Regions from separate parts of the Homo sapiens genome. Here regions 1, 2, 4, 5 and 6 are each linked to region 3. The links come from fine-mapping of genetic effects on gene expression. A gene starts in region 3. Each other region holds a variant in brackets. All regions are shown on one strand. Distances are between the middles of the regions. Region 1 overlaps ITGA1 (integrin subunit alpha 1). Region 2 overlaps ITGA1 (integrin subunit alpha 1). Region 3 holds the start of ITGA1 (integrin subunit alpha 1). Region 4 overlaps PELO-AS1 (PELO antisense RNA 1). Region 5 overlaps PELO-AS1 (PELO antisense RNA 1). Region 6 overlaps ITGA1 (integrin subunit alpha 1).

Evidence for each region. PIP is the estimated chance that this variant, and not a neighbour inherited with it, causes the effect.
Region 1: its variant is fine-mapped to the expression of ITGA1 in gastroesophageal junction (GTEx, PIP above 0.99). The same link has a PIP of 0.9 or more in esophagus muscle, lung, sigmoid colon, spleen and stomach.
Region 2: its variant is fine-mapped to the expression of ITGA1 in whole blood (INTERVAL, PIP 0.97).
Region 4: its variant is fine-mapped to the expression of ITGA1 in whole blood (TOPMed, PIP above 0.99). The same link has a PIP of 0.9 or more in blood mononuclear cells.
Region 5: its variant is fine-mapped to the expression of ITGA1 in whole blood (TOPMed, PIP above 0.99).
Region 6: its variant is fine-mapped to the expression of ITGA1 in whole blood (INTERVAL, PIP above 0.99). The same link has a PIP of 0.9 or more in neutrophils.

The regions. Positions count from the first base shown.
Region 1 is chr5:52,895,234-52,900,632 of GRCh38, reverse strand. ITGA1 (integrin subunit alpha 1) reads right to left here. Exons shown (of 29, transcript NM_181501.2): 10 at 3,105-3,178; 11 at 2,250-2,394. Among named protein-coding and RNA genes, the nearest start is that of ITGA2, 91 kb to the left of the region's middle. The variant T/C (reference allele first, on the strand shown) is at 3,339.
Region 2 is chr5:52,834,785-52,840,183 of GRCh38, reverse strand. All of the region lies in intron 1 of ITGA1 (integrin subunit alpha 1), which reads right to left. Among named protein-coding and RNA genes, the nearest start is that of PELO-AS1, 37 kb to the right of the region's middle. The variant G/A (reference allele first, on the strand shown) is at 2,915.
Region 3 is chr5:52,784,509-52,789,907 of GRCh38, reverse strand. It overlaps ITGA1 (integrin subunit alpha 1), which reads right to left and starts at 1,992. Exons shown (of 29, transcript NM_181501.2): 1 at 1,494-1,992. The coding sequence starts at 1,554. It overlaps PELO (pelota mRNA surveillance and ribosome rescue factor), which reads right to left and starts at 1,992. Exons shown (of 3, transcript NM_015946.5): 1 at 1,494-1,992. PELO-AS1 (PELO antisense RNA 1) reads left to right here. Exons shown (of 5, transcript NR_186455.1): 2 at 4,316-4,373. RefSeq lists an enhancer at 2,025-2,304.
Region 4 is chr5:52,741,300-52,746,698 of GRCh38, reverse strand. The region is part of intron 2 of PELO-AS1 (PELO antisense RNA 1); the gene reads left to right. Among named protein-coding and RNA genes, the nearest start is that of ITGA1, 44 kb to the left of the region's middle. The variant G/A (reference allele first, on the strand shown) is at 2,625.
Region 5 is chr5:52,765,137-52,770,535 of GRCh38, reverse strand. The region is part of intron 2 of PELO-AS1 (PELO antisense RNA 1); the gene reads left to right. Among named protein-coding and RNA genes, the nearest start is that of ITGA1, 20 kb to the left of the region's middle. The variant G/A (reference allele first, on the strand shown) is at 2,925.
Region 6 is chr5:52,920,171-52,925,569 of GRCh38, reverse strand. ITGA1 (integrin subunit alpha 1) reads right to left here. Exons shown (of 29, transcript NM_181501.2): 17 at 5,102-5,238; 18 at 2,683-2,793; 19 at 83-292. Among named protein-coding and RNA genes, the nearest start is that of ITGA2, 66 kb to the left of the region's middle. The variant T/C (reference allele first, on the strand shown) is at 3,067.

The DNA of each region.
Region 1 (5,399 bases), 110 kb before region 3:
AGTCTTTAGTATCATAGAATCAGCAGCTTTATAATTTTTATTTTTATGGGTGTGTAATATTCATTAAGTGGATTTACTATTTACTTAACTACCTGCATATTTTCGGGCATTTAGGATAATGGCATTTCCCCCAATAACATAAATAATAATACAATGGAAATCATTGTTCACTTGGCATTCTTAAATATTGGATTTTTTTCCCTAGGTTAGGTCCACAGAAGTGAAATTTCTGTATAAATGTGGTACGAACATTTTTTATAGCTCTGTAAACACATTGTCAAATGCCTTTCATAAGGAGTTTTACTAATTTATATGTCATCCATTATATAGGAAGATAAATGTTCTATATTTATTCTACATATAACAGAAGCCTCAGGTTAAGCTGGTTCTTGATTCCAAGGTATTTCACATAAACAGTCTCATAGAACCTTAGGATGTAATGAACTTTTAGAAGATATCTAATCTAATCCCCAGCCCTCTTTTTTAGGTATTCTGTGTCATAGCACATATCATACTGATAGTGATTGCTTGTTTCATTATTGTCTCTCACCCAAAAAAGTAAGGTTTATCAGTGTAGGAACTGACCTGCCCCATCTATCTTTTTATTCCCTATAAACTCAGTGTTTGGCACATTGCTGGTACTCAATATTTGTGCAGTGCTTTCTTAATCAACCCAGAATCAGTTATTTTGGTATCGTGATATAAACACTGACATAAGAATCAAGAAGCCTCAATTGTGGTTTCACACCTGCCATAGGCAGCTGGGACATAATTGTTCTATCTCTCAGTTTCTTGATTGGAAATTAAGACTACATGCTCCATAGGATCTCTTTTAATGCTAAAATTTGAAATGAATTTTAAGCCTAACCCCTATATTTTATATCACAATCCTCCAAATACCTAAAATACATGCAATGCACACTTTGTTTTCTAACCTTCAATTTCTTTAAGTTTTCGAGAGAGTGAGACTTGTAGCAGGGAATTGCTTCGGGAGCTGACTTTTCTGTGTAATATTTTACTGGCACATCCTAGTTTGTCATTTTCTCCTTGTAGTATGTGATACTTAGAACAACCAGATACTCTAGCTGTTGTCTGACCAGAGTGGAATGTAACAGGATTTCTATGAGAAACAGACTGGACTTTCATTCATGCAGTTCTACATGTCTTAAGAGATTTTAGCAGTCACAGTGCAGCTGCTGTTGACTGTTACATTTTTAGTCATCTAAAACTCTAGTCCTTTTATTCTTCTTAAGTCCTGCTGCTCCTACAGCTTTAATAGGTGTCCTTCAATAAGGAGATGTATAAACACCGCAGTAAAGACCTGCCACCTTCCTGATAAAATAGAAAGCAACTGGGACAGAGAGAAAAAGACTTGTCTCCGGGACAGAAAGATCCCAGAGAGGAAGGCTAACACGTGAAGCTGTGAATGCTTCCAGGCCAAGGTATGTGTTTTCTTTATCACTTTATTCCCAGCACTAAGATCAATGCCTGGGGCAAAAGAGGATCCCCCAAATATTTGTTGAGTGAGTAAGAGCTGGGAAGCCATATCCTGATGGTCCTTTTTATTTTAGGTCCTCCCAACTGTTGGTGAATATCTTTTTTCAGTGAGGGGAGAGTTCCCTGGCATCCCCCAGGTGTTGCTCAGCTTGGTATAGATCCCAAATAAAGTGGTACCAGACATACAACTCCTCATTTCTGGCAAGACACTGGGAAACAAGATCATGTTATATCACTGGGTTTAAGTTCAATATTTGTCTGATTGTGAATGGAGCTATTAAAGAAGAAGTTACATGACAAAATACATTTTTCTTTTCCCAAATTAGGACCCATAGAGAGAAATTAATGATAGAAGACATTTAAGACAATATGAGTTTGGTTTTCAGGATATAGGAGAAGTCGAGGTTTCCTTTTCTACTCTCATTTCTTGTCCACCAGGTTCAAAGTTCTCCTTGAAGTTAAAGTTGATACCAGACACAGAGAAACTGAACATATCAGAAAGGGCACATATCAACCTAAACCATTCCCTGCATTAGACAGCCCTACTAACAAAAAAGGACCCCCATGTATGTCATTTTGACTAACTAAAGCTGCTCAGAGGCCTAAAACTTTGCATGGGTTCTGGAAAATACCCAACTTGTTGAAATAATCCTGCTATATGGTTGCAAGCCTATAGAAACATAAGCAAATAATGCTAAAGGTAAAAAATGGAAAAGTAAAACAACTCTTTTATAATTATATCCAAACCTTACCTAAATAAGAAGCAAGCGGTTCATTCTTTTTGGTAGACTCAACATTAAAGGTTGTGTTTCGAGGGATTATGATTTGACTAGCCTTCTGCATGACAACTGTTCCATTCCAATCATAGGCTCCTACTGCTCCAAGCATGACCCAGTCCTTACATGCAAATAAATAAGATAATAATATTTAATAAAAATAATAAGGGGAAATACTTAAACACCATTAACAATGTGTATAGGTATACTGTTCAAAGTGCTTTACATTTGTTAGCTTATATAATCCTCATGATAACTCTATGAGTTAGATGCTATTGCTACCATACCTGTTTTACAGAAAAGGAAATCAAGGCACAAATAACTTACCCAAGTTATACAGTAAAATTGCACATGGAAATGTCAATATTCTTTTGCAAGGACCATTATGCCTTTTCTTTCATTAACTGCAAATGATATATTTTCTAATCTTGTCTTTCTACTTTATTCTGGGTGCCCAGCATCCTAGGTCTTGAACATGGAATTCTAATAAGACCCTTGAATTCCTTGACCTGTGGAAAAATATTCCACATCTGTAGCAAATATGTTAAATTATTTCATTTAGACAGATACATAATTACAAGGCAAAGCTCACACTGTCTGATTCACAACTATTAGTACAATGTAGTGAACTGTGTGAGAGAACATATTTTCTTAATAAGAAGCTTGTGAAATGATATTTTCCTATTTGAATTAGAAAACATCATCATAGCCTGCATAATTGTTCAAGCTATGAACTGCACGTTGCACTTACATACTGATGGCTAGATGTTGGTTTTGGGAAGGGAAGTCTTGCAAACATATATTTCATTTTTCACCAACTGGTCAACATACCTGTGAATAATGAGCACTGAAGCCAGTCTGAGACATTTCCATTTCAAATGAAGCTGCTGACTGGTCAGCTGTGGCTATAACATAGGAAAATATCACTGTAAATAAGTAACAATGCCTTTTCATGCACTACTGACTTGCAGAATACAGATACCTGGTAGAGCTTGTGGTCTTACCAACCAGAACTTCAAACATCTTAGGGCATTTTCAGCCATACATTTCTCAACCCAAAATTTC[T/C]AGGTAGGCCTGGGTAGAAGACAGAGAAAAATAGTCAAAGGGCTCATGTCTCAAATTCTTGTTCATTAGCAGCCCTGTCCTCGCCAGAGGGGTTGAGAAATCTCCATTCTTATACTGTAGCATGTTGTGGATCCTATGGTGCTTTGGGTCCACAAGGCTCAAGTTGGATGTACTACAGTAGGAAATTCCTGTCCAAATTCATGCCTTGGGAACCCTGCTGAGCCCTTAGGCTAAACTCCCTTAATATGTTATGGGACTGAAAAAAATTTCATTCACATATTTAAAGAGGTTTCTCAACTCCATCAGTCCCACCCATATTCAGGCCATAGATTCTGTCAGAATTTCATTGTGTGATAAAGGGTTTAGGTATTTTAGTATGCATTTATTTGCTCTAATTACTGGTGGTAAGTATCACTCACAGATCCAGAGGGGTCTTTGTGATAGGGCTGCCCACATGCCATTCAATCATACATTTTTAAAAGATCCTGTACCCATTTTGAAGCTCTTTACTGAAATGCAGAGATAATTCAGAGCATTCCATGGCAGTCTGCTACTCTCAAATTATTCTCAAAATATTCACAAACCCAAAGCCACAATTTCCTGAGGGAATTGATGGAATGTTGATTTATTTGCTTGCACTAGGGGTTACTGATTTATTTGGCCTTGCAGATAAGTTAAAAATAGCACTTAAGAAAGTCAGTCTGCCCTTTCGTTGAGGCAAGAGAATAATCAAATTTGTGAATGTAACTATTTGTTAGTTATTTACATGGATAAAATTGTGAACAAATACATCAGTAATTACCTTTGTAGGACTAGATTAGACGCGGCAGTGAAGAATTCAAATATATCATTTTAATCTCTTGTGTGAATTGCCCTGTAATTTAAATGACTGAGATGCATTTTAACTTTAATTTAAACATGTATTTTCAGTCCACAATGCTTTCAGGTGTTTTCTCACTTATCTGCAAGATCAATAAGAATGCAGCAACGGAAACCTGCATTATTTTCAGCACCTGCCCTGCCGCTATTCTGCCTTCAGCTGAGAACAGACAGAAGGACGCTATGTGATGTTCTTCCTGCTGCAGTGGCATCATGGTAATAGACCACTATATTCTCCTGGGCTTCTTGCTTCAAACTTCTCCCTGGACTGTTCATGGGTGTTTGGGCCAGCCACTCTAACCACTGTGCAGCCTCTGGTTAGAAATGTTGGCATTTTCTCCCAGTGCTCAACGGGAAATGGAGACAGTAGACTATTTTCTGATGTACTAAGCAAGTCCTTGGCATACTTGCCTCAATAGATGGCACTGTCCTTGGCAAACAGAAATTTCATAATCACAGCTACTTGTCATCTTAAGATACATGTTGACAGGAAATGGAGATTTCCCGAGCAACAAAGAAATAAAGCCTTTTTAAATATCTCATGAAAAAAATAAGAAATAGTCTAGTCAAAACACTGCTTTTGGTGTAGTGTAGCAACAAAGATGATATAGAAGACATTTGTAATCTGTAAAGTTCCTTATAAAATGATGTCATATTTAAATATAGAGACTTCTTGGAGTGTTTGGGCTCTTCAACCTGTCACCTTTAATCCATGGTGTAGTTAGGTTAGAAATAATCTGAAATGTCATTTCAGGCAATTGATCTCCCCCTCCCCTAGCTGAAGTGGGCTTCATTTTTGCCAGTTTTAGGTTACTTGCTTACTTAAAAGGAGATTTAGAAATGACACTGTATTCTGTTGAACTATCAAATGTAACTATGTAACTTTTCTTTTAAATTATTTTTACAGATTGTTTCTATCATATCTTAGCCCATGTTATTAAAAATTAAAAGTACACAATTAGTTGGAAGACCTTATGTATTTTCCTTAAGGCCAGCCAAGCTCATAATCTGGTTTATTGGTAAATGACACCGGGAGAGCTGTTGAGAGACCAAAGCCACTTAAAAATGACTTGTACACAGAGCACAAGACAGCTGAGTTCTTCAGAAGCAGCTGGGACTCCAGACTCATAAACAATTAGAGTGTTCTGTTTCTAAAGGCACAGGGGAAAGAGGCCAGGGGAA
Region 2 (5,399 bases), 50 kb before region 3:
AATTTTATTCATTTACTTATAACTTTTTCTCAGTAAGATATTGCCAGTTATAAAGGTATTTTTGTTAGTATACACAGCAGGCGTTTTTGAGGGTCAGTAAAGCAAAGAGGTAGTATACACTGTAAAATAAATTATTTTTAATTTACCTACTAGCTTTAACTGGCAATTGCAAATTCCAGGCACTAAGAGATTCCATTGTTGATTCTCCTATACTATTTAACAGGCTAATTTTTCTGGATGACTTGGATGTGAGCTTTTGAAGGCATACACATGTTCCAAGCATGAGGGTGAAACAGGAGACACAGTTACTACTTCACTTACTTTCATTGCTTCACCTAGGGACAGTGAGTTATCTTACTTCTTTTTTGTTTATTTATATGTTTAATAATTCCAGTGGAAATTAGAGAACTGAAAATCATTTCTTTAACCTTGTATACTATTTCTGCTTTCCTGACCCATGAAACTACCTATTGTGCATACTAACAAAAATAACCATAGGATTGGCAATGTGTTGCCAGCTCACATATCTTACTGAGAAGAAATTATATGTTAATTAATAAAATTCATTTAAAAGAACCTGCTAATAAAGGTACAACTTTTTCTTCAGGTTCTTTCTTTTAAGGCATGAATGGACAGAGTACATAGGACAGTTGGGTAAGACTTGACCCTGAGATTGAACCAATGACATCCTAAAAGTGTGCAGAAGACAGTAACCAGTTACCTAATGTTCAAATAGTACAAGAAGAGCCAAAAGCTATTCTCCCTTTCCCTAATAGTGCAATTTGGAGTTTGGAGCTAAAATTGTTTCGTGAAAACACATTCAGATGTAAATAAAAATAAAATAGAAATGAATGAAAACAAAAAACATATTCAAATATACCTCAAAGTATTTATTTAGATTATTGAAATTTAGGAGCCAAAGTAAAAAGTTTTTTAGAAATATGATCATTCATATGCCTTACGGTATCACCTATAACATATAACATATAACAGGTATTCTTCACTTAGTGAAATTCCAACATATGAAAAAATCTATTAAATTATGTTGTGACTTTGTTGTTGTTGTTGTAGTTGTTGTTTTTGTTTTGAGGCAGGGTCTCACTCAGTCACCCAGCCTAGGATGCAGTGGTGCAATCATGGCTCACTGCAGCCTCGGCCTCGCCAGCTCAAGTGATTCTTCCACCTCAGCCTCCCAAGTAGCTAAGACCAGAGGCACATGCCACCATGCCTGGTTAATTTTTGTATTTTTTGTATAGAAAAGTGCTCGTCACGTTGCCCAGACTGGTTTTGAACTCCTGGGCTCGAGTGATCCGCCTGCCTCGGCCTCCTGAAGTGCTGGGATTACAGGCGTGAGTCACCACACCTGACTCAATGTTGTGATTATTTAGACTGGAAAATAATTACTGGCATTTTAAGTTATCTACCACATTATTTCAAAAATGAAGCATGCCTAGACTTTTACAAATGTTTTAACTTGTATACAAGGTTTTCAAGACATAATCAAAACATAAAATGAGGCCTACCTATGTTTTATTTTGCTGTGGGACTTAAAGAGGTATTAGATTTAGTTTGACCTCTCTTTTTTTATTTGCCATATTTCTCAGAAACAGGAGGCAAAATATACGGATTCATAACATTTCTTTTGTGATGGAATTCAACTGACTAAATACTTTCTGGTTTAACACACAAGTGGTCAATCATTAACATTAATAAATTAAGGTCTTCATGAAGCTAACTAACAAAATGAAATACTGTGCACACTCTGACAGTGTACCTCAACCAAAACCAAAAACCTATTAAAAAAAATTGTCCATCCTAGAGTCACCTAGTAGCTTTAACTAGCAATTCCATATTCAGAGATGCCATTGTTGATTTTCCTATGGTATGTAATAGACTATTTTTCTCAATGTCTCAGTACTGCTTCTAATCATACACTGCCACTTAAACTAAAATGATTCTGTATAATTTCTCTCCCTTCCTTGCTTCTTCCCAGCTACTTATTATAGCAATTTTCCATTATATCATTCACTACCAAATATTTCCTTCATTCAGAAGTTTTTCGGTTCCTCTGCTCAACTAAAAACTTGTCCATTTTATGAAGAGAAAATAAGCCAAACGAATGTAACTTGTTATTCACCTGAAAACGCTTAGAAAAGAAATCAGAAAGTATTTTAAAGGGCATTAAAGTTTGTTTATAAGAAAATAAGAAAAGTCTCAGTAGCTTGGAATGTTGAAATATTTCAGAAGGCAAGGGTCACTAGAATGCTTATTTTTGTTTCAGAGGAAAGAGATAACTTTTTGATGCTTTCTTTTCTGTTTTGAGATAACTCTAAACTTTGTTTTCTTAGTTATAATTGCTGTTGCTAAGACCAGGATGATCTTTCAGCACTTAGAACATTAGTTGGGCAGTAACATCCTTCGATCCAAACTCTATTTCTATCTAGTAGCATCATCTTTTACATTCTTTCCATTAGTCTACAAGAGTATCTTGAAACTGAAGTAACTGCAGATGTTATAGTCAATATCCCCAAGAACCGGCAGCCAATATTTCCCTTAAATGGAAGCATTCTGATACTTAGAATCACAACACTAGTGACTAAGTATTTGTTATATATAAGGATCTTAAAATTCAGGGTAGAGGTTACATTTGCATGGGAGAAGGGGAGGAAAAAATAGGGTCTAAAAGGGAATAAAAACATGGCTTTAACTTTATATGTTTTTAGAGGGAAATGCTAACTTTCCACTTCTGACATTTCCTTCCATGGGGTGAGTGCCTCACCGGTTGTAATACTTCTCGGCTATTTCTCAACCTGCCCTTCCTTCACACTAATTGATTGGTGAGTCTGGAAGGAGACACTGTGTGGCCAGCCCCATCCTCTCTTTCTCATTTTCTTTTAGAACTGAGCCTGCCTAC[G/A]TTAAGAAAATGCTTTGCTTTGTTCGTCCAGTGTCAGGCTCTCGGCTGGCGCTGGAGTGTAGACAGCCTCCTCTACGGTTCAGTAGTGGGAATTTAATTCATCAGCCATGCTGATTCATCAGTCTGATTCTTTGTCATTTCCCAATTGGTTCTGATCTCAAGTGAGGAAGAGGTTTGGTCTTTACTGGACTTTCTCAAAAATCCTAATAAAGTTTTATTTCTTATGAAAAATAAACAATTACAGAAAAATGTTTAGATTTTGCAAAGCTGGGTAGAGGGCACATTGCTATTTGATATATTATTCCTCATAATTTTCTCGTTTGCTTGAAGCATTTTATGATAAAAATGCCTTTAAATTTTCCTGTATAATTATCATTATACATTTGAAGACGTAGTAACAGGATACTTCTCTAAGATTTTCTAATTTTATCAAAATTGTCCCCTATTTTCTTAACTATTTCAACAATGAAATCACAGTGCCATTCTTGCTTCTTAGAGAAGCAAAAAATGCACAAAATAGAAGAGCTTGATTGAATGACCTTTATTATCTTTATACATGCTCTAAAATCTTAATACTTTCAGCCACATTGAGATCAAGGAATGGGCCAGGAGCAGCAGATCTGAGAAGGCACAAGTAGACAAAGGCAGAGATTTGCTAATTTCAGAGGTAGGCAAAATGAACAACCAAGTGGCGGAAATCTGGCCAAGGGTGATTTGTTATGGGAGCTGTCATCTCGCATTCATATTCTGGTGTACATGACTGAGATTCAACTTCCAAGGCGGGACCAAAAAAAGACAAAGATTTTGGAAATCAAATTGGCACTATATTATGATTAAAGTTCAATTTGCTTACACAAATGTACTGGCCAGAAAAGATACTGACTTGCTAGAATTTTCACTAGTTCCTCTTTCCATAATTTTGTCAGGACTTGTCCACAGTCCACTTTCTTATTTTATGTACTGGCTCTGTGCTATTTTGTCTGGATGGACCATTGCCTCTTCAGAGATGTGCAAATAATCCTCACCATGGAACTGAAATTTTCTGTAAGAAAGAGACACATGTGCTGCTCCAGGAACTCATAATTCCTTACTCTGGGAGAAATTTAATAAATACGGAAGTAAATTAAGTAACACTTACTGACTTTCTACTGGCCATTTCTAGTTCATGAAGATTAAGCATTCAGGGAAGATGCAAAATAAATAGGTCATCGCCCAATTTAGGATTGGTCAGCATGCAAGAGGTAGACTGAACATCTATTTCTAATGATATCAAGAAAATATAAAGATGGAAGAAAGAAATGCCAAGGTGTTTCTACAATTATCGGCAAAGTTCAACAGGATATAGAAAGATAAATGCAGATAAATAAGAATGTGCATTGGACAATTTTCCTTATGTATTGCAATTTTCGAAAGCTTTCTAACATCAATCATTTCTCACCATTCCATATATTCTTGCAACTCCTTGCTTTTAAGTTGTGATTTGAATCTTGAAAAGGGCAGAAATTAGAACAAACGAACCAATAACAACAACAAAAAGAACACCTTGTGACATCAATGGAATCTAATAACTAATTTCTTCAGAAGGGTTTCTTGTATCAAAATATATACACACACACATCTATAAATTCATCACCCAATAAATGCTGTCCCACTTTTTAAGCACCATTTTAGACCCATTAAAATGAGGGCTCATTTGACCTTTCCAATCTCATTACTACTCTGGCTCAGAATGTCAAGTAATGGCCACCCTTCAATATGCGCAGTTCCCTGAAACATCTTGTATTCTCAATCGAACTTCTGCTAAAGTTTTCCCCACTTCTGGAAATTCCTTTCTTCAATTCTTAGCCTGGTGAACTCTCCCCAACTCCCCCGTTGATAATCATTCTTCCTCTGTTTTTGCAGAACTTGTACACATTTATCCCATAGGATGTATCGCTTTATATTAAAGGTAACTGGTTTACATGTACTAGTCTCCTGTTAGACTGGGAATTCCTTAGAGTACTTAAAAATAAGAACTTATATTCTCATTCTCAACGCCTAGCACAGTTCTGGATATGATTAAGAAGGCTTATTAGCTCTTAATATCCGTTTTTTTCATTAGTAATAAAATCTTTACTTGGGGCAGCAGTGTACACAGCCAGAAGACAACAGGTAGATAGCATAGCTGTACGACTAAATACTGGCCCAAAAAAAGTAAGTGGAAGTATTGTATGGGATATCCCAGAAATCCCCTGTGCAGAACTGATTCAACTCAGAATGCCTTTTACGTCCTTCTACTTTCTCTTTTATCCTTCTTCTACCTTTCTTCTTTGTCCTTCTCTCAGTTATGAACTCTTGTATAATAGTTAGCGTTCACTCAATAGAGTGAATTGTGTCCCCTGAGATTCATATGTTGAAGCCCTAACCGCTAAAGTGACAGCATTTGGAAATAGGGCCTTTAGGGAAGTAATTAAGGTTAAATGAAATCACAACCACTGGGGCCCTA
Region 3 (5,399 bases):
GTAACTTGTTAAACTTCTCTGTTACTTCAAGTTTCACTCTTGTCTTTTTAGAGGATACGCAAACCTCATTTCATCATTTCTACTCTAGAGACTGCTTATTTGGTAGAATGAAAAAGTACAACTTGGATAGTAAACTACTGTATTCAGATTTTGCACAAAAACAACAAAATACAATCTAAAAAAATTTGAGTTGGAGAAGAATCATAGGTCAAATATGTGTAAAAAGTAGTGGCAGTAGCTGGTAAGTTAAACCACTCACCGGCTATAATGCTGTTCAGCAGTTACCACTGTTTGGATTATTGGACATTTCCTGAGTAGTGGGAAATGTTTGGATGAAAAGCCAGTAGCTAATTATTAACTCTCTTTACATTACCTCCCTTCTGAAAAAAGCTCTGCTTGCTGATAATCAACTTCTAAATCATCTTCATAAAACTTAACAATGCTTGGCCATCTAAGGCAGGTCTAAACTAGCTGGCTCTACCCTGTTTTTAGTGGTAAAAATGCTAAATTAACTAGTACTAATAACCATGCCAGCAGTAAAAACACTGAACAATTGAATATCAATGATATGTTAAAGCCAGCTGTTAATTAACCCATTAATAAGGTGATTTTCTTTCACACAGAGATTCTATCGATACACTTTCCCCCCACCTTCTTCCATTTTTCACCATTTCAACTTTCCCCCACCCCAATCAGTAACTGGTAAAAAAGATCTGACCATGAGTTCATTATTGGGAAAATCTTACAAAATGCTATATTTCAAGCTTTTTCTAAATTGGATACAACTTTGCATTTCCACTATGTTTTTAAGTCCCCTCCTTAAAAATACACATTTATGTACAAATAACAATACTATATTTTGCATCTTAAAAGTAGACTGCCCTGTGATATTTACAGAGAAAATGTTCACCATTCCTTTCTACGTTTCAAAATATCCCTCCTCTTGGGTGCTGACATAGAAACATCATTTTGGAACAAGTGGCAGTTTCGTCTTGCATCCCTGCCTTTTCTTGTTCTGCATGGGAAAAAAGCCTAAATAGTAGACAGCAAGAAAATTCAATAATGTCCACTCTGGAACAACCCGAGGGTAGGAATTTTGCATATGTATCAGGCGCCCTATAAGCATCACCCTCCCATCCCATGCCATAAAAAAGGGTGGAGGGGAGGAAATATTCAGCAAAGTCCTAATATACAATGTGTATTGTAAAAACAACTTTAATTTTAAAAGTGAATTCTACCTTCTAAGGTTTTCAGTGCTGCCTCACTCCTACTCCTAGGGTGAAGGACTTTGGAGAGACACGAAAACTAATTCATATCAAAACCAGAACGCGAAACTCCTGCCTGCCCCGTAGCCTGGCCTGAGTACCTGGAATGCCCGAAAGTGGATGGGCGCTCTCTCTTCCTATCTGGCCCATGGCTCTGAGGACCTCCCTCCCCGCTCCAAGCCCCAAGCCCGCGAGCAGGAGATGCTCAGAGAAAAGCGAGTCGCTCACCAGTGAGGAGCCAGCAGCAGGCGACAGCGACCCCTGGGCGGGCGCGGGGCCGAGGGGCCATGGCCGGAGCAGCCTCAGCGCCAGGGGGCCGCGCTGGTTCGCAGGGCAGGACCGGGCGCGGGAGCTGCGCTCTCTGGCTGGGCCACTTATCCCGCTGCCGCGGTTCCCAGTCCTCTGCCCCAGTGGCAGCGGCGCCCAGGAGCGGGAGAGGAGTGATTTCCTGTGTTTTCGTCGAATTCCTCTAAATGCGCTCCACGCTTTTCACATCCCAGACGGATTGCCACATCGCCCGCCCCTTCGCGCTCTTGGTCTCTGAAATCTCACTGGCAGCTTCCCAGGCTCTGTCCGAGACATGGACAAATAAAGCCAGCTTCGCGGGTCCGTGTTTAGGCTAAAGTCCACGGGCTGTAGAAGCAAACCTTAAAGGGACATCTGCCTTTCATTGAGAGGGTGATCTCGTTCTCCGGGCCAAATCCCCTAAGGTGGTAGGAAGGCGGGTAAGGGCTGGACCTTCGGGAGGGTGTTGCCAGCCCAGTGGCTCCGCCTTCACACCCCTTACTTCTCCCGGCCCGGGCAGGGAGGGCGCTTTGACAGTGCCTGGGCGCCCTTAACGGGAGGCAGCTTTCCCGGGTCCATTGCGCAGAGGGATTAGGCCGTCTGTGAAAATGCGAGGATCTGGAATCCCCCCTTCCATCCCCTGCGGACACTTGAAATTCACCGTGAAGTCGTTTTGCACGAAAGGGGGCGTCCCCACCACCCCGACAGGCTCCACTGAGGGCTTTGCTTTCGCTTATGGGGGGGTGGGGGGGTTGCTTCGTTTATGGTAATTCGTGGTTAAAGGGTGGTTGCAGATAAGCTTTTCTTTGAGATAACTAGGATAAGGGGAGAAAAGGAGAAGCAAGACGGAGGAAAAACAGTAAGAGGGAGAGCGAGAAGGGAAGAGAGGAAGAAAAGCAGCCTCCTTGGAAATGGAATGTGTGTGGGCTATTTTGTTTAAGTGAATTAGGATGTTTGTACGCTGGTAATTGAATCTAATAAAGAACTCGGGGCACTACTTTATTTTTTTCTTGCTTGAAACTTTCACGAGTGAAAATGCATTAAGAGTCCAGAAGTGCTTAGGAACTTGCAATGCTTCCCTTTCCTGGTGAGTTGAACAACCTCTCTGAGTCAAAAGCCATATTCACCCTAGCTTCAACCAATGCTGGCTATTTTCAAAATAGCTGTGTCTTAGCGGTTTTGAGAATTTCAAAGACAGAAAGAATAAGTGGATTTGTGTTTAGAGGAATCTGAGGGAAACAGTTCAATTCAATTCTTCAACTCAACAACTAATTGAGCATCTCTAGCAGAACTAGGGCTAGGCAGGACAAGAGTGCCACCCAAAGGAGGGTTCGTTGAGCAGAACGCAACACAGGTAGCACAGAACAGGTAACACGAGGGACAGGAAGGAAGAAGCCCACAGGGTTCACTGGATACATTGCCAGATAGAGGATCACAGCAACTAAAAGCTGGAGAAGACAAAAGTTGAAGAAGTTTAAGGAGCGTCAAAAATGGGGTGGGCAGACCCAAGGAGGTTGAAGGCCATCAGATCTCAGTATGTTGACCCATTAATCAAGAAATTCCTTTTCTATTATGTATCTGAACTGATTCACTATTTAGTAAATACATTAAAAATCTCGTTCTCCCGTTTTTAGTTTTTATAATGTCATTTCTCAGTTCTGTCTTCAAATTTACACAAATGAGTCTCTAGAAAAATTGTATTATGTTGGGTCACAGTTCAATCCCATTGGACTTTACTTAAGTTCCTTTGTTTGTGTTCAATGCTCTCATACCCTGCCAAGGAATTCATTTCCTGTGTATATCTCGTTTCCCTGTTGGTAGTATCAGTTATGTCTTATGCCTCTCAGTATGACTCTCTGTGCTTTGAACAGTAACCAATAGATATTGATTAATTCGTAGACATTTAAAAATCATAGTAAGTACTTTCCCAATGATATTTCTCCAAATTGCTTAGTTTTCAAAAACATATAATAGTGTGTCTATATATACACAATCATGTGTATGTATGTATGTGTACATATATATGTACAGCATATACATACATATGCAAATACATATATGGCATTTTAGCAAATTGCAATATATTTCATTAGAAAAAACAAAAAGAAATTGTAAAATATTGAAATAAAGTAGGGTTAACATATAATATGTTCAAGTTTACAATTACTGGGAAATTTACCTTTCTTCTGGGGGCTAATATATAATTTCAATTTTAATATTTTTATTTCCTCTAGGACTTACAAATTATTGGTGATAACCATCACTAACAGTGATATTGTTACAATTAATTTTCACAAGTTACAAATTTTATGTTTACATGTTTACATATTTATGAATCTTTTATATGTCTAGTCAATACAAATGTAGAGACTGAGAGATAACTATGGTTAGAGAATTAATTTTAGAATCAGTGCTTATTTTCTGAACTTCAATAAACCCAAATACAAATAAATGTCAAGCCGGTTATTTTCTTAACCAATTTTATTCTGACTGACAGAAAGACATGTCATTGAGTAAAGATTTAGAGAAGACAGAAACTTGCCCAGAGTCACAAACTAGTTATTGATATGAGACACTTGATGACAAATGTTTCAGCTCTAGACTTTATACTACATACTTTTCTATTTTAAATGAGACTTGATTTGATCAGATCTCTTTAAGGGTTTGGAAGCATGAGTAGGAGCATGAACCTTATTGTGAACTGCACACGCTTCTTATGAGAATCTAATGCCTGATGATCTGTCACTGTCTCCCATCATCCCCAGATGAAAACGTCTAGTTGCAGGAAAACAGGCTGAGGGCTCCCACTGATTCTACATTATGGTGAGTTTTATAATTACTTCATTATATATTATAACATAATTATAATGGGAATAAAGTGCACAATGAATGTAATGTGTTTGAATCATCTTGAAACCGTTTCCCCTACCCCTGGTCTGTGGAAAAAATGCCTTCTATGAAACCGGTCTCTCTGCCAAAACGGTTGGGGATGGCTGCACTGAAAGATTAGAGACTGAACTGATTAAGAATTTGGAAAGTGGATGTCTATGAAATGAGGCAAGAGTAATTGAGATTATTAACCAATAATCTCAAAAAGAAAAACATATACTTAAAACCAAAGTATTCTTCTTGGAGTTAATCTAATATACTGAGTAAAGTAACTAGAGTAAGTAAGGTTCTGGAGTTACGCTGCTTGGACTCAAGTCCTGGAACCACAATATAGTAGCTGTGTGATTTGGGAAACGTCATCAAGTTTATCTAAGCCTCAGTTTTCTCAAATGTAAAGTGGGAATGAAAATACTGTACTACTTCTGGTCTGAGAATTGCTGTGGGGATTAAATGAACCGAGCCTCTGAGCATTTAGCACAATGCCTGGATTAAAGTAAGTGCTCGGTTAGTATGAATCATTCTTCTCTGTAAATAGAAGAATTGGTATTAAACAGACCATGTAAACAGGGCAGGCTCTGCGTGTGGTAGACCCTGTAGGAAGTGGTGAAATTTGATGGCCATCAGAAGAGGAACTTTAATGTCCGCCTAAAAATATCTCCATCAACTCCTATTATTATTTCTGGAATCCTCGCTTTAAAAATATTTACCTTGGATTAGGGAATTATCTTGAAGATAGTTCTATAAAATGGGTATGCATGAAGACATCAGAACCCATTATAACGTTCACATGAATTTGCTTTTCAAATTGGCTGGCCGTCAGAGGTTTTTTTTTTTTTTTTTTTTTTTTAATTTTTTTACAAGAGAAGAACATTCCGCTAAGAGGTTGGGGGAATAGAAGAGGTTCTAGAACTCCGTGTCTAATGTATGCCAGGGTTCTTTAGCAGTAAGATTATAGGTTCT
Region 4 (5,399 bases), 43 kb after region 3:
TTTGCATTATCTTTGAAAGGTCATTAAAGTCACATAAGTTTGTAATAACTTGATATTCATGTGGGGTCAGAAGTACATGCCGTTTAGACTGTGGTGCAATTTGAGGGACATTGGAGACAAGGATCATAACTCTGTTAGGTCTGGCTTCCTGCTACTTGTAGCCACACAGAGGTTTTCTGGGGCACAAAGCATACAAATTATGATTCTCTCTAAGTTGCTTTTATTACTCAAGGGAAAAATTAACTTCAGATGCAATTTGATATTAAGTTCTTCAAATATCACATTGATATGAAAATTATGAGTCTTATGGTTGGACAGAAAAATAATTATTATGCTTCTTGGTTCTGGACTTTTAAATATACCTAATCTGCTCACACCGCTTGCCACAGACATGCAAAGGATGATAGCAGGTTATAGCTTGAACTAAGGTATTTCCCCATAGCTCTCTGATTTCTGTGCTCAGTCTTCGGTATTCTGTTTTCATTTCACCAGCTCTTCAGTTCTTTAGCTTTTTCATTTTGTCTTGTGTCTCAGCTGTAGGCTCTCCTTGATTTTGTGATCTGCAGTTGGATCCTCTGCTGTTGGACCTTATTCCTTTCCCAATTCATTTTATTCAAATATTTTGCATTTTTTTCACCTGGCTGTTAGTGCTGTTTCCAGATAAGAGACACTTACTCTACTAGTTTTTGTTCCCAAGGACACACATCATCATCATCTTCTGGGCTGGACCCAGCCTAACAATCAGAATCAGACACTTCCATTTATCCAGTCATCTACCCTTTTGGATAGTCTGTCTATCTCTAAGATTATTGTTTTAGAAAACCTAGACTACATGATTTCTTCATTATAGTGGGTATCTCCTCAAATTTATAGGTTGAAGTCCTAACCCCAGTACCTCAGAATGTGAGCTTATTTGGATATAACATCACTGAAGATGTAATTCATTATGATGAGGTCATAGTAGACTAGGTGTAATGGTTAATACTGAATGTCAACTTGATTGGATTGAAGTATGCAAAGTATTGATCCTGGGTGTGTCTATGAGGGTGTGGCCAAGGAGATTAACATTTGAGTCAGTGTGCTGAGAAAGGCAGACCCACCCTTAACCTGTGTGGGCACAAGCTAATCAGCTACCAGCATGGCTAGAATATAAAACAGGTAGAAAAAAGTGTGAAAAGACGAGACTGGCCTAGCTTCCCAGCCTACATCTATCTCCCATGCTGGATGCTTCCTGTCCTTGAACACTGGACTCCAAGTTCTTCAGTTTTGGGACTCAGACTGGCTCTCCTTGCTCCTCAGCTTGCAGATGGCCTATTGTGGGACCTTGTGATCATGTAAGTTAATACTTAATAAACTCCCCATATATATATATAGAGAGAGAGTTTTGTCCCTCTAGAGAACCCTGACTAATACACTAGGGTAGGCCCCTAATTCAATATGACTAGTGTCCTTACAAAAAGGGAAATTTAGATACATAAATGCACACATGAAGAATACCATGTGCACATCAAGGCAGAGATGGGGTGATGCATCTATAAGTCAAGGAATGCCAAAGATTTCTGGCAAGCCACTAGATGCTAGGGGAGAGGCATGGAACAGATTCTTTCTCAGAAACCTCAGGAGGAACCAAACCTGCCAACACCTTGATCTTGGACTTTGATGTGGTTTGGCTGTGTCCCCATCCAAATCTCATCTTGAATTGTAGCTCCATAATCCCCATGTGTTGTGGAAGGGACCCAGTGGGAGGTAATTGAATCACGGGGGTGGGTTTCTCCTGTGCTGTTCTTGTGATAGTGACTTTGCTCCTCCTTCGCCTTCCACCATGATTGTGAGGCCTCCCCAGTTACGTGGAACTGTAAGTCTATTAAACCTATTTTTCTTGATAAATTACCCAGTCTCGGGTATTTCTTCATAGCAGTATGAAATTGGACTAATATAGACTTCAAACCTTCAGGGCAATACATTTCTGTTGTTTAAGCCAACCAGTGTGCGGTACTTTTTAAGGCAGACCTAGTAAACAATGCATGCTGTTAAACATAAAATTTGTATTCCTAGTTAGACAGAAGACCACTTCTTTTTTTCAAAATTATATTTTGAACTTGATTGATTATGTCACTTATCACATAGTCTCTATATTTTCTTGACCATCCAAATAAGTTGAATGATGAAAACTTTGTCATTTTTCTATATTTTGAAATATCAACTAGAATAATGTATATGAGATATGGACTATATATGAGATACGGAACACCCTCAGTTCACAAACTCCACCCACTTCATACACAACGTGCTTAGCAAGCAAATTAAATTCACAGATATACCAGTTTGAACTTATTTTGTTCTCATTTTCCTTTATTAGTGGTTTGACCCTGGCTTAACCTTGGTTTTGATTCCTTAAAAGGGATAAAATTTGGCCTAGCTCCCAGTTATATTTGGCCTTTTGCAAGTTGAGTCTTCCTTAGAACTTCCTTCCTCCCAATCCATGCCAATTAATTCATCAATCTTTTCTTAACTAACATTTCTGTAATCTCTGTGCATTTTTGTCAACTACTTCTGAGGCACCCATGTGAGTCAGCCACTGTGCTAGCACTGAAAATATAGCAGTAAGAAAGGAAAAAACAGCC[G/A]TCTGACACTGGGTTGAGGTTTACAGAAGAGTCACAGTGCAACCTTTTGTGGCTTGAATTTTTGTGCTGTCTTCTCTTTGCTGCAAACTGCTATGATTACTTTAGTGATGAACCAATTCAGGCTTGAGTATGTATCACCTACTTACTGACACAGAAGATCCTGAAATTCTGAGTATATAAAGCTAATGAATAAAAGGTATGGGATCAAAAATTTCTTCCAGGCTAATATCCCCACTACTCCAGCAACCTAAGCCACCCACTTCTCTTCTTTTTAATTATTAAAAACGTTTTTGTTTTTATACATGTACAGAGTTTAAGAAATCAGATAGAGATAAAAGTGCCCTGTTAGAAAGCAGTGGTCCCTTCTCCTACCCACTCTACCCAATGCTCCAGCCTTAGGCCCCAGAGCAACCATTTTCAACTCTTCAACTTTTTCACCCTATTTCCTCCACATTTATAGATAATATTACTGATATGTCTTCATATGTCACGATTATGTATGATTTACTAGCTTCCTTTGGTAGTCATTGAAAAATGTTGCGCTTCTCAGCATTCCCTTGCCATCACCACACCCCGACTTGCCTTTTCTTCAGCCTCCCAGCATAGCTCTACCACACATTCTCTTTAAACAAGCATGTTAGCATGGTTATGGTTACATAAATAACATCCATCGCTTTTCCAAGTTTATTTCTCAGACAACTTTTGGCTTTTCCTAGAGTTAATCATTGCCTTTTTGAAAAGACCTCAGTTTATAATGCAGACTTTGAATAATCACTCTATTTTTAGCTAAGTGCCTTCCCAGGGCCTTGCTTATCCTGATCTCTAGTGGCCCTAAACCCTGAGACCCTCAAGGCTTCTGCAGAGGGAAATGACTCACGGTCTTTGGTGCCTTTCCCCTGTGGAGACTTCAGCAGTCACTTCCTTTGCTCTATTCAGTCAGTAACCAGTCCTATATCTACTTTGCAGTATCAATACCACTTTTTCTACATTATAATTTTAAAGTAATTTAATAAAGAAAAAGAAGTTAACATGTATGTTCAGAGGCCCCAAATTCCTCTTAATAATAATAAATTTATCTCTTCTGGACTTAAGACTAACAGATGTCTCTCACAAAGCCACCACAGAGGTAGACTCATTAAATCTCATGTCAAACATCTAATATAAAATTCTACTCTTTTGGGTTTTTTTTTTTTTTACCTTCTCTCTGCCTGTCTCTCCCTTTCTCTCAACTTTTTCCATTTTCCCAGTGGCCCTTAGATTGAGGGAAAGAGGTAAAATTGTATAATCTGCTCACTGGGTGAATATATACCAATTGTTATACTAGAAAATTAGAGAGGCACCCAGGTGGCAATAACTTCCCTTATCTCAGTTCATCCATGACAAATGAAAGATTTTCTGAGATGATAAAGCAGCACAAATTATCCTAAAAAGAGAAAAGCTGTTCAAAATCACGAGTCCTAAGGGATGAGTTCATCATCTCGCTTCATTTTTACTGATAGCCTGAATTTACATGCCAATATGTTTGGATAATTAAATGAAATGCCTCCTTTAGTTCAGGTGTTATTAGACCAGTGAGATGGGGTCTAAATTGTGGCTTTTCAGCCAAATGTAAACTTTTGGGGTGAAAATTGCTTTCTTCTGCAGTTTATATTCCTGGACTACTTCATTTCTAATCTCGTTAATTGCTTGGCAGGTATATCACATATCAGGATTTTTGTTAAATAAATTAGCAGGAAGTACATACAGGAAAGTAATCTTATAATGGGTTAGTACTATCAAACACTGTCACCATAAAGACCACTAAGATTCGTGCTCAGAGTATTTTGAGACATGTTGGCTTCAGTTCAAGAATAATCTCTTTCTTGTTTTCAGCATAGGGTTTGACACATAGTACTTCAAAAATCCACCAAAGTTATTTTACCCTTGGCACCGCCTTATCTAGCCCAGGCAGAGGCAATTTCCAATGGTTGCACCCTAATTCTACCTTCCAGGAGAATGTGATTCCATCCTCTAGAAATTGCCCTGCCTCATGTATATGCATGGAACAAAAAGGTCCATGGTATCCCTAGGCATGTCTTCTATCATAAATGCACCACATCTGGGAGGAAAAGCCTCATTTTAAGACGCAATGTTGGGCACACTTTATATTTAGTGTGCCACAGTATCCCAAATGTCTAGCATAGAGTGAACATGAAAAATATTTGCTAATTGGCAGCATGTCTTTGCCATTTTGGAACTTACAGTCTAACTGGCAAAAGAAACCATATAACAAGAAGTTATAGTGAACTATGATAATTACAGAGGGAAGTGAGGGCCTCACAGGGAGGCACTTAATCCAGACCCGGGGAGTCAGGGAAGAGCTTCTGCAAAAAGTGGTGTCCAAGTGCAAACTGGAGGATGAATGGGGCTTACCAGCCAGGAGTGGCTGTGTGGGTAATGGAAGGAATATGGAGGGCAGGAGAGCGTTGCAGCAGAGAATGTCCCAGCAAGAAGGAATATTGTAAGATAAGGCTTGAAGAAGAGACAGAAACTGGAGAGGAAAGAAACTATGACTGGAGAGTAGAATAAGTGGTGTGGCTGAAAATAAAGAAGAAGAGACAATAAGGGAGAGCCATAAATCCATACGTAACAGTTTAGATTTTATTCTAAGAACCATGAGTAACTACTGAAGGGTTTTAAGCCAAGGAGTGACAGAATCTAGCATGTCAGCTGGCATGATGTTCTCACAGGGATTTGGATTCTTGATCTTCAGTGGAAAGGTTGAGGGACAAACAT
Region 5 (5,399 bases), 19 kb after region 3:
TAAGGAAGTTAGCAAAAGGTTCTCAGAAGCGGAAACCTCCAAGATGAGACCTCAAAGCTGAGATCTGAGAAGCCCATCTGTAAATGATGAAGAAAAGTAAGCCGAACACCTTTTCTGAACCTAAGCTGAACACTCTTTTTGTTTATTCTTAATCTTTCTTTAATTATTAATTTAGTACAATATTTAGTTTCATGTTCTCACTGACCCTCAGAATTCAGAAATAAATCTTCTACTCTTTTCTCTCTTTTTCTCCCTCTCTGTCATATTAATAACAATGTGGTTATTTGCATAGGAACAATAAAACTTGTTCTCCTATTTTTCTGGCTATCATTGAATGAACTGATTATGCAACCAAGTTATTTGAATGTTTTGGAGTGCCGTATTTAGGAACAGTCTCCTTTAGTCAGATATAAAAACTGCATCAATAAAAAATAACGGTTGTGCTTAGGTAGACATACAGGATCAATGACTACAAAGCCATATGAAGAAACTGGTCAGATATCTGTTTTATGGCTTACAAAGGTCAACCTTACAGTTAATAAATTAGTTCACTTCCTCATAGCCCAGAAACCCTGACTATTTGGCGGGATCTTTTATTTATTTATTTATTTATTTATTTATTTATTTATTTATTGAGACGAAGTCTTGCTTTGTCGCCCAGGCTGGAGTGCAGTGGCTCCATCTCGCCTCACTGCAAGCTCTGCCTCCCGGGTTCACGCCATTCTCCTGCCTCAGCCTCCGGAGTAGCTGGGACTACAGGTGCCCGCCACCACGCCCAGCTAATTTTTTGTATTTTTAATAGAGTCGGGGTTTCACCGTGTTAGCCAGGATGGTCTCCATCTCCTGACCTCGTGATCCACCTGCCTTGGCCTCCCAAAGTGCTGGGATTACAGGCGTGAGCCACCGCGCCAGGCCCGGGATCTTAAAAAAAGAAAAGTTGACCAACGTTTTTCCCATATGTACTCATTAGAATCTTAACCATACCGTCTTCTCTATAGAACCTCAAAAGGTGATCATGGATTGATCATGAATCATGGATTAATGTGCCTTCAGTTTGGCCCAGTAGTTAGGAAAACCCAGGAATTACAAAGATCAGTAGAGAAAATAGTAAAGAAACATGAAAGATGAGACTCAAACATCATGATTTAAGTAAGAGACAGAAAAAAAAAGTAAAGGCTAAGTCAGACCCACATGAAAGATAAATTTCCACATTATAACACAGCTGTGGAGGGATCATGACATGAGCCAGAGAAAATTCAAAGTCAGGGATTAGGATTCCTAGATCACAAATAGTGATGTGCTGTGCTGGCTTTAAAATATTTCTGGCAGGGCGCAGTGGCTCATGCCTATAATTTCAGCACTTTGAGAGGCCGAGGTGGGCGGATCACCTGAGGTCAGGAGTTCAAGACCAGCCTGGCCAACATGGTGAAGCCCCCCTCTAGAAATATTAGCCGGGCGTGGTGGTGCATGACTGTAATCCCAGCTGCTTGGGAGGCTGAGGCAGGAGAATTGCTTGAAACTGGGAGGCGGAGGTTGCAGTGAGCCGAGGTCATACCATTGCACTCCAGCCTGGGAGACAGAGTGAGACTCTGTCTCAAAAAATAAGTAAATAAATAAAATAGTAATAATAATAATAAATAAAATAATGTTTCTGCCAACAGTTCAGTCATAAATCAAATAGGAATGTGGGCAAAATTGTATTAATATTTGCTTATTTTAGGTTGTCTAGAATTTTATAAATGGGTTTTGTTTAGATCATAGGAAATTATTGGCATATGAGGCAATACTTTTGTCTGTTGCCTCTATTTTGGGTGGGGTAGGTGGGTGACATTTGTATTGTGGCAAACAAACACTGCAGCATACAGGATACAGGTGCACAAAAGCTCAGGGTAAATAAGAGGAGCTAGAGGTTGTAAAGAAATATTCTACAGCAGGTCAACTCTGTCCATCTGACTTCCAGTGCAGACAGTCTGACATTTTTAGCAATATTTTAAAGACCAAAATAATGAAGTAAGTGTTTACCAGAAAGAAAGCTGAGAAGTTGGCTCAAACTTTGAAAAATTAATTTTGCTTTTTTCAGATAGAGCACTGTGATGAAAGAAGCTTTCAACAGTTTATTCAGATTCCAAGAGAATGTTGGTGTGCCTAGTGTCCAAATTCACCAGACAAGTTTTGCTGTGATTTTCCAAGCTAGGTTCATTTCATTATATGACAAAGGAAATGATCACCATTGTAAATAATTTTTCTGCCTGTGACCATATCTTACCAGTTTATGCAGGAATTTCAAGCAAAGTATGAAAAATTTGCTAATTTTTGTGCTATCAGGAAGATAGGAGGTGAAAGCATGTTGAAAAGAATTTAAACTACAAATTGATACCAAGGAATTTTTGGAGTTCAGAAAATCTGCAAGAACCAACTTGTCGGACCCCCCAGGACTCATAGTATGATTCTTGTTTCTTACTGATGTAAGAAGAGAATGCCACAGATTAAACTTAAAGTTAAGGGACAAATAAGCTAGACAAGAATAGCTCTGCTTTCTTTAAGGAAGTGAAATATTCACATTCAAACTGAACTTGTGGATTGACTCAATGCACATTTATTTCCTTTTTCTGATATTCCCTGAATTCAGTAGAGTTATAGATTGCCTAGATATACAGATATGTTGGGGTAAACAAAGGCCCAGTTATAGAGGAAGTTCTCAAGTTACAAGAAATCTGAAACACACTTTAAGTTCTGGCAGAGGCTCTTGGAAAATAAAGCTCAAGTTTTTTTTTTTTTTAATAATTACAGAAATGTGGTATATCTATAAGCCACAATATCCAAAGAAACTGATGAAACTGTGTTATGGTTTGAAGGTGTTCCCCAAATTTCATGTGTTGGTAACTTAATTCCCCAAATCTTATGTTGATGGTATTTGGAGATGG[G/A]AGATAGGAGATAATTAGGAGTAGATAAGGTCATAGGGTGGGGCCCTCTGATGAGACTGGTAACTATGTAAGAAGAGGAAGAAAGACTTGAGTTGGCATGCTGTTGCCCTCTCCTCATGCGATGCCCTTCACCATGATATGAGGCAGCAAGAAGGCCTTCACAAGATGCCAGTACCATGCTCTTAGACTTCTCAGCTGCCAGAAATGTGACGAATACATTCCTTTTCTTTATAAATTGCCCAGTTTGTGGTATTCAGTTATAGCAAAAGAAAATGAACTATGACAAACTGTAAGTGAACTTTTCTTAACAAGATGACATACTAATGCCATTTGGGAGATGAGTATATCTGTTTTGAAACTAATGATATACTCAGCTTATGGCCAAACACCTAGAAATTACCAACATAAATCAGAAAGTCATCTTTGGTGATGTTAACCTAGATTCAGAATTGGAGTGAGTCCTGAAAAATATTCTTTATCAATTTTAGGAATAAAAGATTCAACCCACACTAGTGGATTTCTGGTTACATGATGTGACAGTTAATATTGAGTGTCAACTTGACTGGATTGAAGGATGAAAAGTATTGTTTCTAGGTGTGTCTGTGAGCGTCTTGCCAAAGGAGATTAACATTTGAGTCAGTGGTCTGGGAGAGGCAGATCCACCCTCAATCGGGGAGGACACCATCTAATCAGCTGCCAGCATGGCTAGAATAAAAGCAGACAGAAGAACATGACAGGGTCTGATTTGCTGAGTGTTCTGGTCTTCATCTTTTCTCCTGTGCTGGTTGCTTCCTGCCCTAGAACATCAGACCCCAAGTTCTTCAGCTTTTGGACTCTTGGACTTACACCAGCGGTTTGCCAGGGGCTCTCAGGCCTTTGGCCAGAGACTAAAGGCTGCACTGTCAGCTTCCTTACTTTTGAGGTTTTGAGACTGGGACTGATCCACCACTGGCTTCCTCGCTCCTCAACTTGCAGACGACATATCGTGGGAGTTTACCTCTTGATCGTGAGTCAATTCTCCTTAATAAACTCCCTTTCCTATATACATATATCCTGTTTGTTCTGTCCCTCTAGAGAACCCTGACTAATAGACATGGTCATTGTTGAAAATTACCTGAAACAAGAGGCCGACTTGGTTAGGAGTCCCTTAGCATAGGCAGTTCCTTGAGATGTGGGAAAAAAAAAAGTAAACTTTTTAAAAATATAATTATATAATCTAATTTAGGCTAATATTTATATTCTGAAAGGGAATAATCTCTTGGTCACAGAGGAAGCTTTAAAAAAACATGAATTTCTCAGTAGTTCTTGTTTTGTTTTCAGAGACAAGGTTTCACTCTGTTGCCCAGGTTAGAGTAAGTGGTACAATCGTAGCTCACTGCATCCGTGATCTCCTGGGCTCAAGTGATCCTCCTGCCTCAGCCTCCCAAAGTGCTGGAATTGCAGGCATGAGCCACCATGCTCAGCCAGCTTTTTTATGTACCATGTGGTCTCATCTTACTTTCTGTTTTTGTCCTGTCTGGCTGTCTCCTCTATTCTCATTATTATCTGGACAATCTCATTAAATTAAAATTGAAATTTTAAACATATAAAAATTAAAATCTTATAACATCAAAAATTCAAAACAGAGCAAGTCTGGTTGCCATAATAAAAAGCTAGGTCACTCCCTAGCTTAGTGGGTTCAAGTTGTAGTGCCCTTAGGCCAAGCGCCTGGCAATGTCACCATGAATGGCTACTTCTTTGCAAGGAACAACTTACAACTGTTTCATTTATTGTGTAGTTGGTGGGTGTTAATGTGTGTTGTGTGATGGGTTGGTGGTGAGCAAGGAAGCTGCAGAGACATTAGGCATGAGATGTGTCTACTATGAGTTAGGAGTATTAGTAATAGTCTTTAGAGGAGAAAGCAAACAGGAAGCCCACAGCTTTCAATTACTATATATGAAGTGAGTTAATAATCATGACTATAAAATAGGAATCACAAACTCAAGTAAGGCTATGGGCTAATATATGAAAAAAAACAACTAATTTTAGTTGTTTCTACACAGAAACATATTGTATGCATATTAAAACATAATAATATAATTAATACAATATAATTAATTTATAAAATAAATGTGATTCTTCTCACTGTATTCTTTAAATTCATTATCACCTTAGTTTATTTTTTCCCCAATTTTGATGATGACATGAAGACACAAAACTATTCTACTTTAGTAAGATAAAAATGATGATCAAATTAGTATTGATTGGAAACTAACATTTTCTGGTGAAAAGGACAGAGAGAACTGGGGTGAACAGAAAACTCTAGGCCTGTATAAAGGGAGTAGTTGCTACTTGATCCAATTGATTGCTGCCATTTAAGAAATGGGCTTGTATTGCAAGATCTTCCAGTGCTCTAAAAAACAAAGACATTTGAAATGTTTTAAAATTAGAAGTCTTCTTTTATGTGCTTTTTTTTCTTCCCCTGAAATCCTCCAG
Region 6 (5,399 bases), 140 kb before region 3:
AAAGCAATTATCTCAGTAGCATGAAAAGTAGGCCAGGTAAATGATGTTAAGAGAACAAATAAATGAAAAACTGGAAGTTTACCTCAATTCCTGAAAAAACTAGATTTGGAGAATAATGCACTATTGTCCTGGTGTTATAGGCACTGTCCTTTGTATTTTTGACTGTGAGGCTAACGTTGAACTTATCATTCTGGGATCGGACAATCAGCAGGTCCTTTTCAGTGGTGGCGACATGCAGGCTGAGGTCTGAGATACATTTTTCCTTATTTCCACAATCTTTGGCAAAGGGAATCTGAAATGATGACAGGAAAGAATTTTTCAAAATTTAGCTACGCATTGTTGAAAATTACCCATCAATTTGTGTAACAAAAATGGCATACAGCCAAAGTAAGTTAAGCAACTCATAAGGAGAATTTCCCTGCAAAAATCTTAAGGGATTTTATATTTATCCCTGTAATTTATAGGGGAGAAGAGTAAACATTTACTTACAAATGTAAATTGTGCTTGTCCTTTTAAGAACGCACAATTTTCATGGGTGCTTTGCACTGGCTTTTGTCTGCCAGGGAAGGACAGTTTTGAAATACAAAGTCAAGTACTGCAAGATCTAAATCTACTCAACTCTAATCATGAGATTTTTCTCTTAAAATTAATCAAATACTTAGGAATATCATAAAGCTCAGTTGAGAGGGTGGAAAACGGTCAAGCCACAAATCTAGGAGTTTTGCTTGATTCTTCTTCATTGACCGCCTCTCCACCACCACCATATGTAACTCACCAAGCCCTGTCCATTCTACTCCTCTTCTAAATATCTCTCCAATCCTTTCTTGCTTCTGCAGTCCCACCACCACCTCACACCCAAGCATTCTCATTTCCTCCCTGAACTAAAGTAATAGCTTCCCACGGGGCTCCCACATCCACCTGTTTCCCTCCAACCACTCTTCACTCTGCTGCATCCTGTCGTGTGGCTGAACCAAATAAAAACCTTCAAAAGCACTGCACTGCTCTTTCAAAAGTTTAGAATTTGTGCAGTGGCACCAAGTCCCGAATGACCCGGCCCCTGCCTTTACCTCCGGCCTCACCTCACGTCACCTCCTTTCTTGCTCTTTAGCGTCAGCCACACTAGCGAATGTCGTTGTTTCCTTCATGCTCAGGACTTTCACACTTAGCATCCCCTCTGCTCCCCAAACTCCCCTAAATAGGGTGGAAATCACCCTATCCTTCAGGGCTCCACTGAAATGGCACAACTTCAGGAGGGCTGTCCTGACTTCTCAGCCTAGGTGGAAGTTCCTAGAGAGCTCTGAAATCCTCCTCCATAGCATATGCTCTAATTACTACTTAATACCTGTTTCCAGTGTTAGACTGTAAGCTCCAATGCCTGGTATGTATAAGACAATCAATATATCTGGTAGGAAGGAAGGGAGAATGGAAGATAGGTGTATGGGGAAAAAGAATTCCCCATCCCTCATATCTCTTCCATTGGAGCCACGCTAGTGACACCCTCCCTCTTCTCTCCCCTCACTCCACTCTCAGGGGTGGCACATGGACTCTAACTTTGGGAACAGGAACTAAGTGAACACAACTCAGTCCCTTTCTCTCATTTCTATTCTCAGAGCAGCTGTACCCACAGGAAGCACACATTTGGCTCTACTCCATTTGACAAGTTTTACAAGGTGGGCTCCATGAAGAAGGACAGAGATGGATCAGCACTGCTGATGACCTAGGTGGTTACTGGTGGTCTAAGTCCATGCTTCAGCGTGAGGACACCCTTTATACCTAAACCATACACTGCAATCCAGTGCTTATTAGAATAATGGGGGAGATTTCTTTCCATTGGTCCTAAATTCAAATGAGGTAAAAATGAGTGTCATTTATTAGTTTTCTTAAACTCCAACAATAGGAAATTAGAAGGATTGGAAAAAGTCTAGAAGAGCCTAATTCTTTTTTAAAACATTTTAAATTGATTTAGGGTTATGTGTGCATGGGTTTCAAGCTTTTTCCTAATGTTACCAGGGCAAACCTGGAGATATGGCTGAGAAAGTTTACTATTTTCTTGAAGAGTAGATAACTGAGAAAGTTCATTATTTTGTTAAACAGTAGATAGCTGAGAAAGTGCATTATTTTTTCTTAAACAGTTTTTTTTTTTCTAGTCTATTTATCTGTAGGTAAGCTTGCTGAAAAACAACTATAGACGGCCTGGGAGCTTCAGGACCCTTTGCCAATTACCAGAGGAAGATAAAGCCATTGAGAAAACGGAGCAAACAAGAACCAGCAACCCCTTGTTACCTTTAGATCATTAACATGTCATTATAATGCTAAAGTCCCTGCCATAGAAGAAAATGGCCACCATTTCTTGAACATATGTTGTATAAGGAAGCATGTTTATGAGCTGTACTTGTACATCTGGAGTTCCTCTCTGGACATGCTTACATATACCTCCCTGCCCCACATCTAACTCCTTAAAATTCCCCAGGTTTTCACAGCTTGAAGAGAAGGTCTTTAGAGCAAGAGCTCCCTCTTTCTCCATTCCTGACCAGGAATAAAATCTGCTTGCCTTTTTTTTCTTTCTTCCAGTTAGTTGTTCGTTCTTTGTGATCAATGCAGAGTAGTGAAAAAACACAGTTTACTAGTGACATTAAAATGTTCACAAGTTGGTATTTTGTATTTTAAAGAAATCTGACTTACATATTCATGTACTGAGTTTGGTAGAGAATCATCAAGAACAGGCCCATTTTCTGGATCGGTAAGATTAAAGTCCAACGTTATTCTCACAGAGTCCTGAAAGTCATGCTTGTCCTAGAGGGTGAAACATAAAATATATCACTGGTATCATATTTACCGGGTGTTCTGATCTTGTTATGTCTCCTTCTTCTGTTCCCAAGGGTCAGGCTTACTGCAGCATTCTTGTGCATCTAATCTGACATATGATCTCATCAGGCTTTTGCTTCCCTGGAGAGGGATTGGCATTCTGACAAGGGGCATAGGGGAATGTGGAGGTTTCAGAGTATGACCTGTTGACTCACTTCCAGTTCCTCAGAGGGCCCTGCTGGAGTGATGGCAACATCACAC[T/C]TGGCTGTGTCAACATAGGAGCTACCTGCATCACAATATAGTTTTTCTTGAGACCTCAAGCCAAAGATCATTATGTAACACTTCCGGGAACATTTCCCAACTTCAGAAGGGCAAACTTTCTATAAAATGAGTTACATTTCATTAATATAATATATACCTACAGCTATAAGTTTTTGTTTGTTTGTTTGTTTGTTTGTTTGTTTGAGACAGAGTCTCTCTCTGTCACCCAGGCTGGAGTACAGCGGCACGATCTCGGCTCACTGCAACCTCCACTTCCCAGGTTCAAGTGATTCTCCTGCCTCAGCCTCCCGACTAGCTGGGATTACAGGCATGTGCCACCACACCCAGCTAATTTTTGTGTTTTTAGTAGAGACGGGGTTTCACCACGTTGGCCAGGCTGGTCTCGAACTCCTGACCTCAGGTGATCCACTCACCTCAGCCTCCCAAAGTGCTGGGATTACAGGCGTGAGCCACCATGCCTGGCCAAGAATTTTATAATGTAAAATTATTTGGAAAGGATGTGAATATGATTAATACTGTTAACATGCCACCAATAACAATAATCATTTATAGTATTCAAAATTATGAGCTTTATATACATTATTGCAAATTATTTCAACAGTCCTCTAAGATGAGTAACTATTATTGTCCTTATTTTACAGATGAAAGATTGACCCTCTAAGAGACCAAACGACGTTGCCAAAGTCTCTCAGAATGTGGAATATTTGGGATACAAATTCTACACTGGCTGACTCCAGAACAAATTTCAAAGTGCTTCTTTCAAAATCCAAAACAATTTTCGAAATTTTGAAAATATTTCAGTCCTTTAAACACCAGTACCTGGACATAACTTAGACACTGAATTTGTGGACAAACATAGACTGAGATGATTTTTAGCAGGTTGGAGACAATGCCATATCTGGTTTCATACCCATTCAAATTTTATCCACATTCTAATTCCTAAGTGTTCAGTTCTGATTAACTAAATAGGAGGGGCAACTCCAGTGTTATTTTACCAAATAATAGATTGATCTTGGTCCTGACAGAATAAGCTTCATGATAAGTATCATGAAGCATATCAACATGAAAATCACTGAGGAAGAACAAATGTGGCACAAAAGGGTGCACATTTTCTGTCACTCCCCTGCCCCTGAACTACAATTTTCAAAATACAGACTATGAATATATCAATAATACAGAAATAAGTCAGAAGTAGGAAAATTGGCCTGGTTCCTTTAAAGCTCCAAGTTTACCGTCAAGTCTCTAAGTCTTAATGTCAGTTACTAAAATCAGTTTCCTCATTACCTTCATGCTGCTTCTTGTTTTTATCACTCTCATGTACATTTTAAGAAAATGTTTAGGAAACTCCTGCCCTCTGTTGGGAACATTCCCCATATACACAGTGTCCCAACAAAATACATTTTAAATGATTCACACTGGCTTACCAGCCATCTCTAAACATTAATAGTTTGATTTCCAAAACTCCCTCATCCACTAAAATTAAAAAAAAAAAAAACTGAAGTAGCACAAAGCCTACAGATGATAGAAAATACCAGATAATTTTCCCCTTCGCTCTAAAATCAAACGGCGAGATATGTAGTTACATGGATCCCAGAAAGCATACAGCCCAGCAGTCTGCCCCCAGAGCAGTTAATCACTTACCAACCACAACTGACAGACAAGGCCCACAGAAATTAAATGTTTTCAAGTTGAAGGAATAAATGAATGAGTGAAAGAAATGAAGACATGAATAAGGTTTCTTGTCAACTAGAACACTGTGTCTTTTCCTGCCGTTCCATAATATATGGATGTCTGATAATGCAGACAGGGAAGACTAGAGATAGTTTTACAAATATTTGGAAATGAGAAAATTAGACCTGCGATTTTATGATAAAAATGAACAAACAAGATTTCCTTTATGACATCATAAGTGCATTTTGAAATAAAACAGTAAGAATTTGATTGACTTGAAATAAGACATCTCTACTGTATTCTTGATTTGGAATAAGGCAGCAACGATATATGATTTACTTGCCAACATGTAGAAGGAGTGCTTAGTGCATTCTGATTTTCGAACTGTGATGTTCCTTTGAACCTTTCTCTCTTGAGTTCCAGAGAAAAAACTTCGTGATATTTGTCTTAGTGAATCTAGGGTGACACGGTACTGCAAATCTACAAAAATTTTAAAAAATAATTGATGGAAATGTTTATTTGAAGTGATTCTCATATTGTACAGATTATTAAATTAGCATTATAGAAAAATCTCTTTGGCAATCAATCAAAAAAGATTCTATTGTTCAGCATATCCACACTGTTATAACAATGATATTAGC